2 separate regions of the Homo sapiens genome follow, and region 1 is linked to region 2. The links come from fine-mapping of genetic effects on gene expression. Tissue or cell type: whole blood. Region 2 holds a variant in brackets; the other region holds the start of a gene. All regions are shown on one strand. Distances are between the middles of the regions.

What was found. PIP is the estimated chance that this variant, and not a neighbour inherited with it, causes the effect.
Region 1: BCR starts here. The variant in region 2 is fine-mapped to the expression of BCR in whole blood (TOPMed, PIP above 0.99).

Annotation. Positions count from the first base shown.
Region 1 is chr22:23,176,391-23,184,390 of GRCh38, reverse strand. BCR (BCR activator of RhoGEF and GTPase) reads right to left here and starts at 3,882. Exons shown (of 23, transcript NM_004327.4): 1 at 2,152-3,882. The coding sequence starts at 3,430. It also overlaps a transcript of RSPH14 not described here and the pseudogene BCRP8. RefSeq lists silencers at 3,352-3,431, 3,452-3,721, 3,792-4,031, 7,436-7,535 and enhancers at 4,152-4,962, 7,923-8,000.
Region 2 is chr22:23,286,354-23,294,353 of GRCh38, reverse strand. BCR (BCR activator of RhoGEF and GTPase) reads right to left here. Exons shown (of 23, transcript NM_004327.4): 11 at 7,076-7,195; 12 at 6,182-6,257; 13 at 4,733-4,837; 14 at 3,941-4,015; 15 at 1,716-1,813. It overlaps LOC107985554 (a long non-coding RNA gene), which reads left to right and starts at 3,826. Exons shown (of 3, transcript XR_001755448.2): 1 at 3,826-4,140; 2 at 7,581-7,743. RefSeq lists an enhancer at 1,942-2,121. The variant C/T (reference allele first, on the strand shown) is at 4,208.

The DNA.
Region 1 (8,000 bases), 110 kb after region 2:
GGCCTGGTGAGGTGTCTCATCCCTGTAACCCCAGCTACTCAGGAGGCTGAAGCTAGAGGAATGCTTGAGCCCAGGAGTTTGATACCAGCCTGGGCAACACAGCAAGACCCTGTATTTACAAAAAAAAAAAATTAAAAATTAGCCCAGTATAGTGGTTTGAGCCTGCAGTCCCAGCTGCTGAAAAGGCTGTGGTGGATCACCTGAGCCCAAGAGTTTTGAGGTTGCAGTGAGCTATGATCATACTACTGCATTCCAACCTGGATGGCAGAGCCAGACGCTGTCTCTTAAAAACAAAAAACAAACAAAACATTTAAGGGGGAAAAAATAAAACCTAATGGGAAAGAGACTGTGGGACCTTGAGGACATTCGGAGAAGAATCCAGCAAGTCCTAAAAGTGGGTCCAAGTGGTAAAATTACCTCCTCAGCCATTTCCTGAGGACCTGCCCTGTCTGACTCAAGGCACTGGGCTTTCCATCCCTCTATAATAATTCCTATATTCATTTACTGACTTGCATTCGGCGTCTAGTGATGTGGCCAACATGGCCAAGTCTACAGGAGCTGTAGGAAAGGCTGGGCCCAAGGTTCTGGAAACCCAGAATTCTCCACCAGCAAAGACTATCAATTTCAATTTGCACATCTCCCTAAAAACCTCTCATTTTCTTCTTTATTAATAACTCTCCTGCACCATGGCACTGAGGGCCAGTTCAAGCTGGCTCGCCTGACCAACAGCTGGCCAGACAAGGCTGGTGCCCAGTAACCACAAGGCAATCCTCCAGACCCCGAACGAGCTGATGTGCCTGCAAAGCAGGCTTCTGAATAGTACAGCCTTCCACCCCGCCCCCACATAGGGACTTAGGGAATGCAGCCCGGCCAGACGGCAGGTCGGAGCCGTGCACCACAGGAAACCCCAGCTGCAAATGGAAGATCAGTAACTGGAAGTACCTAACACAAACAGGACAGAGTGCCCACCACAAAAAGGCAGCAGCTCTAAGAGCCAAAAATAGCCTCACTCGTTTGAAGAGGATTTTGACAAACCAAGCACATTCAACTCCTCCATCAGCAGAAAAAGAAAAATCAATGAAGCAGAAAACCAGATGAGCTTAACAGGGACCAGGACTCCAAAAGATTCCCGACAGCCTCACACACACACCCCAGCCCACCCTTTCCTTACCCCAATGGCAAACTGTGTCTGGATCTCAAAACATAGTCCCATGACCCAAAATGCCTGATGGTATTTGCATCTAGCACAGAAGTTAGGCGTACAATCCCATAGTTTTAATCTTAGTGCTAGAATCTGACCACAGATTGGGAGCCCCAAATAAGCACCTGTGGGTGCTTATCCTTGGCAAGATGAGGCAGCAGGAGCACACTGGAGGGTCAGCAAATGGGGCTGGGTTACCACCATGGAGGAGCCTGGTGGTGAATAATCATGGGTGAAGCCTCCCATCAAAGCCAGGCAGATCAGAACGGGTGTGGCTCTGCTTCACCCCCAGATAAAATCTCCATGCAGTTGATTTTCGGTGGCCCACTGAGTCACAACTGCCTGTCGCCTCACTTCCTTCTAATTCCTATTCTCACCTGCTGTGACTTGTGTTCAGGACTGCTGGTTAGCAAGCAAACCTGACACTTCTATGGCCTAGGAGCAGCTAGCATATCTCAGGTTTCACAAACGTGTCATATAACCCCTCCAGAACAGGATCAGTGGGGTGGCGGGGAATGCCCAAGACATAAATCAGTCCCTGCTAACAGCATCCGATGTGGGCGCTAGAGATGACTCCGGCTTTTATGCCATCCTCACTGCCCGGCATGGAGAGAGCACATAGCAAGGAGGTTACTGCCTGAAGCATCTTCCTTCAACTCACAAGCTGTACTTCACAAACACATTGCTCTAGAACCAAAGGAACAAACCACCTCCCATCCCTCACAAGACCATCCTCAACCCAATTCCATTCCAAACACTAACAGTATGCATTCAGGAAGGAGGAGGGGATGGAGTTTGTTCGGGTGCAGGATCCGCGTGAACCACAAGTGCACCTGATACACTCAAAACTATCCACTCCTCCCTCCCAACTTCTGTTTTGTATCCCCTACTCGTCTATGGTTTTCCTCCCCCGTGCAGGTGTGCCCACGCACGTGGCGTGAGGAACTCACCTGCGTCTCCATGGAAGGCGCCCTCGCCATCGTTGGGCCAGATCTGCCCGGTCTTGCGGACGCCCACGATGGTGGCCTCGGACACGACAACCGGGCAGTGCCGGTGCCGCTTATGGCACTGCGGCGTGGGGGGACTGCTGCTGTCGAAGGACTGTTGCGAGTTCTGCGAGGGAGAGCGGCTTTTGTCCCGGAACATGCGGTAGGTGGTGGGGCTTGGGGACACGCGGCTGGACTGGCCAGAGGAGAAGTCCTCCTCGCTGGAGGTGAGGTTCTCATTGGAGCTGCAGTCCGGGGTATAGCCGCCTCCGCAATCCTCAAAACTCCGGGGGGAGTAGGACCTGCGGGGCCAGGTAAGGCGCTTCTCCTGCTCAGAGGTGCTCTGGCTGCGCAGGAGCGGGCCCTTGCCCTCCCCTTCCATCATGCCCCCGACGTAGATGCTCTGGTAGGGCTGGTACTCCAGGGGCGGCCAAGGGGGCCTGCTACCGCCATTGGCGTCGATCAGGTTGTCCTTCAGGAAGCGGGGGTTCAACTCGGCGTCCTCGTAGTCGCCGTCGACGCCGCAGCTGCTCTCCGAGGAGCGTCCCCGGTAAGGGGGCCTGGATGCATCCCCCACGCTCGAGCCCGCGCCGTGCTGGGACTTTTTGCGCTCCATCTGCATGGCCTGGCTGCCCAGGGAGCTGATGCGGTCCGACACCTCTTTGTCGTTGACCTTCACCAGGCCGCGCTCGTGGTGAAACTCGACGTTCACGTAGAAGGGCTTCTCGGCGTCCGCCCCGGGCTGGCCATGGCCCTTGCGGATCCGCTCGAAGTTGGACCTGAGCGCCGCCACGCTGGCGGGGGGTCCCCGGTCGTCCCGTTCCCCCGACGCGGCTGCCCCGGGCCTGCGGGCGGTCCCGGGCCTGGCCTTACCCGGAGAACCCTCGCCGTCGGGCCGGGCCTCGGGCTCCTCGGCGGGCGGCGGGTCGGCTCCGTCGGCGGGCGCTGGCTGCGGGCGCGACGCGGACGCTCGGGGCTCGGAGGCGCCGTCGGGGGCCTGCGCCGCGCGCCGGAAGCCCCATCGCTGCCGGTCATAGCTCTTCTTTTCCTTGGCCAGCAACGTCTGCAGGTAGATCATGCGGAAGCGCTCCTGGTTCACCTCCTGCTCCAGGCGCCGAATGGAGGCCTTGCAGCGCTCCAGCTCCTGCTCGATGTCGCCCACTGAGCGCAGCTCCATGCGCGGGGGCTCTGAGTCCGGGAACTGCGCCTTCCACGCCTCCGCGAAGCCCACCGGGTCCACCATGGCGCGGCCGGCCTTACCTGCGCCGCCGGGCTGCGCGCGGGGCCCGTCTCAGCGGCGGCGCGGCGCCTCGCCAGCCCGGCCCCGGGCGCCGGGCGGCCCCCATGGCCCGCGCGGCGGCGGCGGCGGCGAACAATGCCCGCCCACTCCCTGGTGGCAGGTGAGGCGGAGCGGGGCGCTCGGCGCGCGGGGCGGGGCGCGCCGGGGGGAAGGGCGCGGGCTGCGCGCGCCGCTATTGTGTGCGGGGCTCCTCCGCACGGCGAGGCGCGGGCGCTGCTCTCCGCTCCGCCAGGCCGCCGCCAGACTCTGGCCACGGCCCGCGCGCTCCTCGCCTCTCGCTTCCGCACCGCCCCACAGCCCCGCCGCCGCCGTGCCGCCGCCGCCGCCGCCGCCTCCTCGGACGCTAAGCTCAGCCAGCCGGCTCTCGCCGCACTCCCGCCCGGCCCGCACTCTGCGCCGCAGGAAGGGGAGGGCCGGGGGGAGGTGGCCGCGGCGCGGATGACGGAGCCAGGCGGGCCTCTTAAAGGGGCCGCGCCGTGGGCACAGGGCGGGGGGGCCCCCTGGAGGCGGCTCCCCCATCGAGCCGCCACCCTCCCCCCGTCCCTGTGCCTTTTGGGAAACTGAGGCCCTAACAACAGCGAATTGGACTGTGCAACTCGCAGCCCAGGGGTCCCCCGTAAAAAAGACACCGGACTCCCTGGTCCATAAAGACCTTTCCAATACAGAGGTCTGGGCCAGTTCTGCAGTCCTGGAACAGGAACACTTGGCTCCCCTCCGGCCAGGAGGACTTCTCCGGCCAGTCCAGCCGCGTGTCCCCAAGCCCCACCACCTACCTCATGTTCCGGGACAAGAGCTGCTCTCTCTGGCAGAACTCGCAGCAGTCCTCCGACAGAAGCAACCTCCCCCCTCTGCCCCTACCACGCCGCAGTGCCATAAGCGTCACCGGCACTGCCCAGTCGTCGTGTCAGAGGCCACCATCGTGGGCATCTGCAAGACCAGGCAGATCTGGCCCAACGATGCGGAGGGCACCTTCCATGGAGACGCAGGTAAGTTCCTCACACCTCACAGCCTGGCCTCTCACCAGCCTCAGGGCTGGGCACACTAGGGACCACCCAGCAGGGCCCAACTCACAGAGAGGCCAGGACCAGGCAGGTCACCCCGCAAGGCAGGGAGGGCCAGGCTGAGTAACCAATGCCAGCACCCTTGTTTCAGCGGGCCTCTCACGTTGTGGATCTGCTGTGGGTGGCTGCCACACGGGTTTGTCACAGCAGGACCACATGATGGATGATAAATAGGGATTTCTCCCTCAGGTCACTCAATACCCACACCTGCCTTCCTGTGTGCTGAGCCATGTGTTTGTCCCCTGGCCTCTCTTGAGCTCCAGAGGTCAATGTAGTTTTTCCAGGACGACCTGACTCAGAACTTCCCTGATTAGCCTCCCTCTAAGGGGGCGGCCAACCTGCACTGAGGTTCACAGGGCTGGGTGGAAGACAGCCCAGAGCAGGGAGTGAAACAAAACCTTTGATGGTTCTCTGGGGACACAGAGATCTGAGACACAGTGGAGAGCACTCTGCAGGGACTCTGATGGGCACAAACTGAAAATACCCAAACCAGCCCGCTGGGTTGGGGGAAAAGGAAACAGGATTTGGCAAATGAATTACTGGGCTTGAGTCCTGACCACCTCTCCCTCTCTGCCTCAGTTTCCTTGAAGTGAGAAGCACATCTGCCTCCAAGTGCTGTTGTCCCTGTGTGGATGTTAGGGATTATCATGCCCTCCTCCCAATGCCAGCGTCATCTGGAGCAGATACTTTGAAGTCCAATCTAAAGGACTGAGCCCAGGCTAGTAGCCAGGCCAGCCCTGCTTGGGTTCAGGGCTTCCTGCCGACTCCTGGCTGTGTGACCTCAGCAGTGTCTCTCTCAGCCTCTCTGAGCCTCAGTTTTGTCATCTGTTCTTCATGTGCCCAATCCTGCTTCCTTTTCCCCTGACCCGGCAGGCTGGTTTGGGTATTTTAATTTTGTGCTCATCAGACTCCCTGCTCTTTGCCCTGTCTCAGATTTCCAGGCTTCCCTAGAGAACCATCAAAGATTTTGTTTCACTCCCTGCTCTGAGCTGTCCTGTCTTCCACCCAGTCCTGTGGGCCACGGTACAAAATGTTGAGAGCATCCTGCATAAAATGCCCAGATGGGGCAAACATAAAACACAACCTGATAAATGGTGTGTAGGGGTCGATTTCGTGATTGCCTGTTAATATTAGTGCCCCTGGAGAACATTCCTGCCCTGGAAAACCCATGGGCCCCAGTTTCTAGGCTGGGTGGGCGGTGCGCAGCTCACTGCTGCCCTCTGCAGGCCTTGCTAACCTCCTGCCATCCTGGTCCCTTGGACCCAGCGGACCTTCTCATCCCCTTCCCATCAGGCTGCAAATAGCCCATTTTGCATGTGAGGAAACTGAGATGCAAATGATGCCCTGGCCACTAAAGGGGCTGGAATCCCAGTAGTGCCATACTGAGCAGTGCTCTCATCCTCAGTGGCCTATTTTTTTTTTTTTTTGAGACGGAGTCTCACACTGTTGCCCAGGCTGGAGTGCAGTGGAGTGATCTCTGCTCACCGCAACCTCTGCCTCCTGGGTTCAAGTGATTCTGCTGCCTCAGCCTCCCAAGTAGCTGGAATTACAGGCGCCTGCCATCACGCCCAGCTAGTTTTTTGTATTTTTAGTAGAGACGGGGTTTCACTGTGTTGGCCAGGCTGGTCTTGAACTCCTGACCTCGTGATCTGCCCGCCTTGGCCTCCTGTAGTGCTGGAATTACAGGTGTGAGCCACTGCACCCAGCCCTCAATGGCCTCTTCTTTAAAATGGGTATGATAAAGGCAGGCACAGTGGCCCATGCCTGTAATCCTGGTGTTTTGGGAGGCCGAGGCAGGAGTATCGCTTGAGCCCAGGAGTTCAAGACCAGCCTGGGCAACATAGTGAGACTCCATCTCTACAAAAAAATTTAAAAATTAGCCTGGCATGGTGCCTCGTGCCTGTAGTTCTACCTGCTCAGGAGGCTGGGGTGGGAGGATTGCACTGAGCCTGGGAATTTGAGGCTTCAGTGAGCTAGGATCACGCCACTGCACTCCAGCCTGGGTAACAGAGCAAGACCCTGTCTCTAAGTAAACTCTGAAGCTGTTTAGTTTGAGTTTGCATGCTCTGTTCTCTTGGCATAGCAAATGGCTTTTTGTTAGGCACAAGGACACGTCCAGATAGTGGCTTTCTCCCTTGTGGGACAGCCTCTTCTGGCCCCAAGGACACTGTTCTCTCCTCAGGACTTCCCTGAAAGCACCCCTATCCTGAGCCTCTGGGCCTTTCCTGTAGAGTTTTCTTATCATCCATCCCTCCCTAGGGAGGAATGCAGCAGGGCATGGGCATGGGCATGGGGTTTAGACACACATAACACTCTGTAATCCCCCACTCAGTGTCTGTTCCAACTAGATCTAAACTCTGCAAGGTCACAGACCTGTTTGTCTTGTTCCCCTATGTCTCTCATATAGTGAGCTCAGAGTAAGTGCTCAACCAGGTCTGGTGGAATGAGGAACCAGATGTGTGCATGGCCTGGAGGGCAGATAGGTCACCGAGAGCGATGCCTGTGTATGGGGGAGGAAGTGATAAGGCATTCACAGCCCGGCTATAGCAAAGGTGTGTGTGTCCTGTGGGAGAAGGCACAGTTCGGGGAAAGGCTTGCCAGGGGAGGTGATGCCTGAGCTGGTCCTAAGGACAAGGACCAGGTAGGCAAAGGACAAGGAGGCTTCAAAGTTCTGTTTGAGGAGCAGCCAGGTTGGGAGATGAGGCTGGTGTAGGCAGTAGGAAGTGGGATCAGAGGTGAGGCAGGGCCTTGTAGGCCTGCACAAAGTTTGGGTTTTATTCTAAATGCAAGGAAAAGCTGCTCAAAGGTTCTAGACCTGCACTGTCCGATAGAACTTGCCAGTACCATGGGCATGTTCTGTAATCTGTGCTGCACAATGTGGCAGCCACGAGCTGCCCCGTGTGATTACTGAGCATCTGAAACGTGGCTGGGGCAGCTGAAGAACTGAATGTTTGGTTTCGTGTTAGTGAGTTTCAATGGCCACCGTGGCTGCTGTACTCAACCGCACAGGAAGCGGGGTGACTTGCTGGGGTCTGTTGCATGGAAGGTTGGGCGTGGGAGGTGGGAGTAGGGGGAGTGGTTGGGGATTGTGGCAATTGTTTATGAGGAAGGCATTGGTGACCCAGAATAGGGCAGAAGCAAGGTACCCCAGAGAAGGGGTTAGAATTCAGGAGCATTCTGGAAGTAAAACTCATGGGACTTGTAGATGGAGTGGGTGTGGGGAATGAGGGATGTTGGGGTGATCAGACCCAACACCAGGCCGTGGGGGCGACAAAGTCTGGCGGAGTCAAAGGAGTGAGAAAAGGCAAGAGAGAAAGTGGGACCAGGGGGCCAACGCTAGTATAGAGGCTGCAAAGGCCTCTAGCCCTAGGAGCCTATGCTATTTATTGGTGATCAAACAAAGAAACAGGTGGTGAGGATGTGGGGATTGAAAGGAAGCGGTGTATCAAGCA
Region 2 (8,000 bases):
GGTGAGACTATTCTGTAAGATATTATTATGGTGGATACACGTCATTCCACGTTTGTCAGAACACATAACATGTGTAACACCAAGAATGAACCCTACCTAACATCAACTATGAACTCTGGGTGGTAATGATGGGTTAATGCAGGCTCATCAACTGTAACTCATGTCCCACCCTGGAGTGGGATGTCCATAATTGAGATGGGGGGCAGGAGGTACATGGGAACTCTGTTCTTTCTGCTCCATTTTGCTGCAAACCTAAAACCGCTCTTTAAAAAATGAATTATATCTAAAAGGAAACAAAAGAGTGATCCTTGGGGTTGATACAGGAGGGAGAGGGACTTGGAGGAAAAACTGCTCCCCGAGCTCTCCAGTTGTCTGCCGTGGGTGCGTGGTGTTAACTCTCTCCTCCATCACCCTGACGGTGCTGTTGGTGAATCTGCGCTTCACACCGAGGCGTGTGCGCGCATGGCTTCTTGGCGGGGAAATGGAGGAGGGTGCGGGAAGAAGCAAGCAGCAGGAATTTCTGAACCTGAATAGGGGAGGGGGTGGGTGTGTGTGTGCGCCAGGAACATGTGAGTGTCCCCAAGTCCAGATCTTCATGGACAGTGAGGGTGGTGGACGTGACCTGCTACAATCTAACCCTCATGTCTTCATGCCTCCCCGGAGCTTCCGTGGCTGCCTGGCACCTGAACCTTTTGCACACTGCCTGGCACCCTCTCTTGTTGTCTCTGCTGGGTCGTGGCACTCTTGGTCTCTGCAAAGGCTTCTTCGATGGATCCCCTGTGGCTCTTATACCCCCTCTCATCACAGCTGCCACTCAGCCCTTTCTGCAGGGATGTCCAGAGCTACAATGACCAGGTTATTTTACTGAGCTCCTTGTGCCCTTGTACTATTCAAGCAACATGTCTAAAATGATCAAAGAGTAGTGGATGCTGAGAAAGGAGACCTGGGTTCCAGCCCCACTGCTCCATCCACCAGCCTCGTGACCCGTGTAGACCAAGCAGCCTGGGGGCTCTTGGCTTCCTCCTTCGCAGGAGCAGGGGTGGGAGGCAGCTCTCTGCAGGCCCAGCTGGCCTCTACCTGCAGCATCAAGAATGAGACCTTCGAGGTCACAGCTGCTGCAGAAGCTGGGAAATGGCACCTCTCATGGATCTGGGACTTAGTCAATACGGGCCTCTCTGCAATCATTCCCCTACTCCCGAAGGTGCAGGGCCAAATGGCTAAGTGACTCACACAGCAGCTCTCCAAGGTGGAGGAAGGCACGGCGACACACAATACAAACCCAACACCCCGAGACAAGCAAGCAGGACCCTACAGTCCCTGTCCCAGCCCCACCAGCAGAGCCCCAGGCTTCCGGAAGCCAAGAGGGTCACGGGAGCTCATTCCAACTTCTGCGGAAAAACACTATGGAAACCTACCAAGTAAACATAAGCGCTAACAAAGGCAGACAAAAAGCCTTTTTAAGTCTCTTTCCAAACACTTCTCCAGCAAAATAGGTGGCTTCTTTGTGATGACAGGGATGGGTAAGGTTTTCAGGAACAAGGAGATAAAATCTCTTGGACACGTCACCTACTGGCCCCCCAGGAGATTCCTGGAATTCAGCAGCACTGCCTTCGGGGGAAGCCCTCAGGGAGCCCCTGAAGGTTTAGATTATCTCCAGTGGAAAATATCCTGTGCCCCACCTGGCAGGCTGGGCCCTTGTGGAATCAGTTCCTCACCTCGTTCCAGTTTGGCTCAGCTGTGTCCCTGTAGACGCGCGTCTTTGCTTTATTCACAAAATACCCAAAGGAATCCACCTCCAGGGTGCAGTACAGATCTGTGGGGAGAAGTGGACATGGAGAAGGTCACAGGTCTTTTCCACATCACCCACATGGTCTGTAAGAGCAGGTGTTATTTGCAGAATCAGAAAAAATAAAAATAAAAAAAAAAGGTTGTAACTTTCTTTTTAAAAATTAAACACCTAATTGTGGTCTGGCGTGAACACCAGCACCTCATGCGATGCCCCTGCCCGCTCTGTGGAATTTCCCTGGGTGCGGCTGGGAAACGGGACTTCCCACAACATTCGTTCACTCAGTCGATCCACAAACCCCAGCTAAAGCCCCTACGATGAGAAGGGCCCTGCACTGGTGGGGACAGAGAGGTGTACACGCCATTGTTACACAGTGATGCCACAGCAGAGGGCAGCCATCCTGGGGGATGTGGGAAGCCCCTACAATCAGAGCAGACCCCGCTGTACTATGGGGCAAAGAGTTAAGGCAAAGGGGACTCCAGGCCACTGTGGGGCACAGGAAGCAGCTCAGTGCTGGAGAAGTCGTGGGGTGCAGGGGGAAGGGAGGGAGGCGAGGCCTGGAGAAGAGTGGGCTGGGCTGTGGGCGGTAAGTTGCAGGGTGGGGTTTGCATTTTAGAAAAACTACCTGAGACTGGGGATGGAGAGGCCTGGTAGTGGGGACCCTTTCTGCAGGGATATCCAGAGCTACAAAGACCAGGGAGGAGGCCACAGCCAGGGCCTGGCCAGGCAGCCAGAGATGACTAAGAAGCCTCACTGATGGAGAATGGCATTTAACGGAGGGAGAGCAGACCACGGTTTCTGGCTTGGCCATGCGGGTGGATGGTGGTGCCCCTCAAAGGGACAGGACATAAGAGGAACAAGTTTGGGGTCCATGAATAATAGGTTTGGTTTGGGGATGCAAGGTTGAGTGCACGGGGCAAGGAAGAGATAGAAAGAAAGGTAACAGGGAGGCAAGGAGAGACAAGCCCGGGACCACGGGGCAGCGTAGGGTGTCACGCTGTATTGCTCACAGACAGGACCCGGGAGGAGATGCAGGGATGCAGGGAGGCCCACGAGGGAAACACCAGCGTTTATGAGGCAGCCAGAGACAGGGGCCCAGGAGAAAGATTATGTTATGAAGGTGCAATCTGCATGTCATGTAATTCATCCATTCCAAGTGTAGGGTTTAAAGAATTTTAGGAAATGTAAATGTGAGCGCAAACAGCACCACAGTCTTTTCACGACACTGCTCTCACCTAAAAAGTCCCCCTTGGGTTCATCTGCAGTTAGTCCTCTCTCCCAACCCCATTCCCCAACAATCCCTGGTAAGCTTTCTGTCTCCACATTTTGCTGTTTCTAGGAACTTTTTTTTTTTTTTTTTGAGGCGGAGTCTTGCTCTGTCGCCCAGGCTGGAATGCAGTGGCACAAGCTCGGCTCACTGCAACCTCCGCCTCCTGGGTTCAAGCGATTCTCTTCCCTCAGCCTCCCAAGCAGTTGTGATTACAGGTGCCCACTGCCTAGCCCGGCTAATCTTTGTATTTTTAGTAGACACAGGGTTTCACCATGTTGGTCAGGCTGGTCTCCAACTCCTGAGCTCAAGCGATCCACCTGCCTCAGCCTCCCAAAGTGCTGGGATTACAGGCATGAGCCACTGCGCCCGGCCTCGAGAAACTTACACAGTGCAACTCATGTGTTACCAGCCTTCACTGTTCTGACAGCTCCAGTAGCTGGGGGAGACCCCCACTTAGAGGGAAAGGAAAAAAAAAGTAGTATCCATCCAGCTCGACAGAGCAGCCAAATCTGCTCTGCTGTGGGGTGAAGGTGCACTGCTGACAGCCCTCCTGGCTTGGACCCCACACTCCCGGGCACCCCTGGGGATGTCTGTCAAAGTCCTTGCCAAACCCCTGCAATTACTCGATCCACCTGCAGGGGGCAGCTCACCAGCTCCCAGGATCTGAGACAGGCTAGGGGAGAGGGCAGAGGCCACTCCGGGAAAAACAATTCCACACCCAGAAGGCATCAACCAGCACAAACACTCCACAGCGGCCAGGGTCAAAGGTGTCCCGTGGTCATCTGAACAACCTCCCTGTTTCCCCACACCCTGCCCGATGAGTCCTTCCTGGGTGGAGACCCTGGCTCGGCCGCTGCAACCCTCCTCCCCAAACCAGTACTTACTTGAACTCTGCTTAAATCCAGTGGCTGAGTGGACGATGACATTCAGAAACCCATAGAGCCCCGGAGACTCATCATCTGCGCAAGAGATCAAAGAGGTCAGCTTCTGTTGTCCCGGGAAAGGGAGGCAGGTGACAAGCTAACTCTGCTTCAAAATCAACCATCCGGTGGACACTGTGTGGCTGCCATCTGCCTGGCACAAGGTAAGCCAGTGTCATGGGCCAAAAACATACTCATCATGATTTCTGTCTTGGGGATCTCAGGATCCAG[C/T]TGGTTTCACAATACAGGCAAACCAGTGACTCGAAGTGTAATAAGGTTCCAAGGACAGCAGAGGGGGTCGGGGTGATGTGGGATGTGGGTGGGGTGTGTGTGGACACATGTGCATAGCGTATGCTGTGTGTGTGACTGAGCATATGTGCAACAGTGAATGCAAAACAGCTTGACCAAAAGTGCCGGCTGGCAGGTAGCTGGAGGAGAGGAGGGCTGGGAGGACGGGAGTGGGGCCAGATCCAAGGCACAGAGCATCTGAGGAGCGTCTGCTGCAGCCTTGTGACTAGGAACAGAAGCCGTGCATCTCCTCAACCACCCAGCAGCAGCCACTCAGGGAGAAACTGCTCCTAACCCACCTTGTCCACTCCTGGGAGGAGACAAGAGGCCCTAACAAGCATAGCTCTTCCTTCTGAACCAAAGTCCACTAGTCCCATCAAAAGTGCTAACAGGAAGGGGGGATCAGCCTTCAGGCTAGCTGCCTGCCCTCCCTGCAGGTGCCCTGTACACGGAAACGGGGGGGCCCACCTTCCTTATTGATGGTCAGCGGAATGCTGTGGACAGTCTGGAGTTTCACACACGAGTTGGTCAGCATCTGCAGCTCCACGGATGTCAGGGAGAAGCTTCTGAAACCTGGGAGGTTGGAAAAGAGGTGCACCAATTGGTCAATCTGCTCCTTGGCCCTCTGGCCCCTCCCACTGGACCTCCACCACACACCCTGGGGAAGGGGCACGGCAAGAACTGGTGCCAGGGCTTGGGGGCTCAGGAGAGGGCACTTGGCTCTCAAGTGCAGTGCTGGTCTGGCGGCAGAGTGAGGTGTGGCCCTGGAGAGCCCAGGCCTGGAGGAGTCTTAGCATGAGACTTACAAACACACACATCCCACGCTACCTAAGCACAGCCACAAGGCAGGTCTGAGAATGAGTGGCTGGACTGGGAGCACCTCCCTGTGAGGTCTCCCCATACAGACAGCAGCATGGCTCTGCCCGTCCTCTGCTAACACAGGCCCCCGTTTCTCCACCAGGTGAGGAAAAGGGGCTTATTTCTGGGCATAATGCTGAACAGGGAACAGAGGCTGCCACTCTGGAAATGGCTGGGGCTCCTATGTTATGACAGGAAACCCTGGGACACAAGCACTGGCAGGGCTGCCCGGAGATCCTTGATCCCCCAGGCCACGGTGGCATTGGGGGCCGAGAGGTGGCTCTGCATAGGTGAGAATGATGAGCCTGAGGGCGCGGGAGGTCAGGCCAGGCCAGAGGCATGCAGAGCCCCAGCTCAGGGTGAATCCCAAACCTCCAAGGAGGGAACCGGGTCTGCCTTCCCCACCGACACTGCCAGGCAGGACCCGAAGGAAGGAGCGCCCTGACAGAGGGAAGTGCCCAGAGAAGGAAGGGGCTGCCCCAGACAGGAGGGAGCGCCCCTGAGCTGAGAGCGGGCAACCCCGGCCATATGAACAGGGCAGTGGGGCCAGCACAGTGTGAATGCCCAAGTGGGCCCAGCCAAAGGCCCCTTTAGCATCAGCACCTGCTGGGGCAGGGAAGGCCCAGGGGGCGGGGAGTAGATGAGGAGAAATGGGGGAGGCCAAGAAAATGGGGTGGTGGCAGGGTCCCAGAAAGGACTAGGGGGCAGGCCGGGGGTGCGGTGTATGGGCAGCAGACTAGGGGGAGATGGCAGGGGTGTGTGTAGGGGCAGGTGTGGAATCTGGAAAGGGCCTGGGGAAGGGGGATTCACAGGGGATCACAGGGCAGTGGGGAAATGAGTGCCCAGGTGATGGGGGCAGGATAGGCTGGCAGGGGAACAAGAGGGCTGGGGGCCTATCGGGATGGCTGTCGCCAACTTCTTTTCTAAATTAGCCCTCCATGCAACACTTCACTTGGATAAAACCCCTCGAAATAAAAAAGAAGGTTTAAAACCACAGGAGCTGCCAGCCTGGCCCTAATGGTTTGAAGCCCAGCCCCTCTCAGGACAGAGGATACTCACACTTCTTCTGCTGCTCCCGGATGTTCTCCCTCCACTCTGCACGCTCATAGTCAGAGGAGATCAGGAACGTGTAACTCTAGGGTGGGCAAGAAGAACACACCCAGTTATCTCCGCCCTGGCTACGCAAATGCCTGGTAGGCCCGGGGCACCTTAGAGCACACAACTCGTATCTCCAGCCGGCTGGAGCCCAGTGGCCAGGTGTGCTCACGGCCTGGCATGTCGCTTCCGGCACTCCCTACCCTTCCTGCCAGCTGGGTGCCACAGCACCTCTGGCACACCATCTCTCACCCGAACTACATGGGTCAGGGTGTGATGCTGGCAGAGGGGCACAGCTTAGGGACATGGAGGTAACCAGGTGGGATCTGCAGAGGTGAACGTTGATCCAGACCTGACCTCCTGCATTCAATTCACAAGCCCCACACTAGCCCAGAGGTGAGGCTTCTGCAGAGCCCACCAGCTGCCTCTCCTGGTCAGGCTAGAAAACAAGCCATTCTGGACATTGACAGACATGTATTGACAGGAGGGAGAGGCCCAGGTTACAGATGGCAGCAGGAGCCAGACTCAGGACAGAAGGTGTGTCTCTGGCCCTCAAGGCCCCAGGACAGCATCCCTGTACCAAGGGCCAGATCTGCACAAACCTGCTAGGCTCCCCTGCCCTATACCCTCCCTGGAGACCCTGTCCACTCCCAGCTGTGGGAGCTGAGCCAGCTGCCACTCAACCTGGGGGCTACAGCCCAAAGCCCCAGACAAAGGAATGTGCGTGCTTGCATGCACCATGCCGGACATGCCTCTCTCAGAGTGGGGCGCATCCAAGTGAAAACGCACTGCCATTAGGCAACCAGGAGCCCATCCCAGGCCAGGAGAGCAGGAGGGGCCGGAACAGCAGGCGCTCACCTTGCCGTTGCGGCTGTGCACCCTGAAGGCCATGCTGGGAGACATAAGCAGCAGCAGTGACTCCTGCTCCGACAGCTTCTTCTTCAGCCTCTCCGTAGCCTTGCTGCCCTTGTTCGCCCTCTGTGGGGAGATGCCACAGCCTCACCTTCCCATTCCAGCGCTCCACACAACCCACTCCCATTCCATCCATCCCCACCACCAGCTGCATTCAGCCTGCAGAGGGCAAGAATCCCATCTCTCCACTCAGCACAGACCAGGGCCCCAGACCGCAGTTGCTGGTGGCCTCTGGAGGACAGAAACAGCTTTTTTACAGGGTCAAGGCATGGCATAAGCTGCAGGACATGCTCAGTAAACCTTTTTTGGAGGAATTAAGTCTTTCCTCTCACAAGGGCGGAGAGAAGAAACTTTTACCAACATCCCTGCCTTTCATTTTCCCAAATTCAGACAATGTCTAGGAGGCTGCTGTGACCTACAGGGTCCCTCACCCTCTTCCTAATCCAACTAGGTTTCAGCATCGGGCCCCTGGGCATGTTTGTGGAGATGCCAGCAGAAGACCAGACGACCGTCAACAGAACCTGGATGGGAAGGCCCTTCCTATGCTGAGCCATGGGTTTCACTCTAGAAGCCACTATCCCTGGGGAGGAGAAAACTGTGCTGCCTGTCACCAGGTAGGGCCCCACCCCATCCCATCCCCCAAAGAGCTGAACATGGAGAATGCAACAGTAACAGTCAATAGGGCTCAGCTGCCCTGAGCACTGGCTCCCACTCTGTGTGGGGACACCCTACCCTGGAGGTCACAGTCCCACAAGGATGACAATAGAATGTTCACCCCAGTCTTGAAGCTCCCTGTGTTCCTAAGTGTGCTGGGTTTGGGTACAGCAGGCTGGGCAGCTGGGCAAGGGCTGAGGACCTCCTGTCCTGCTGC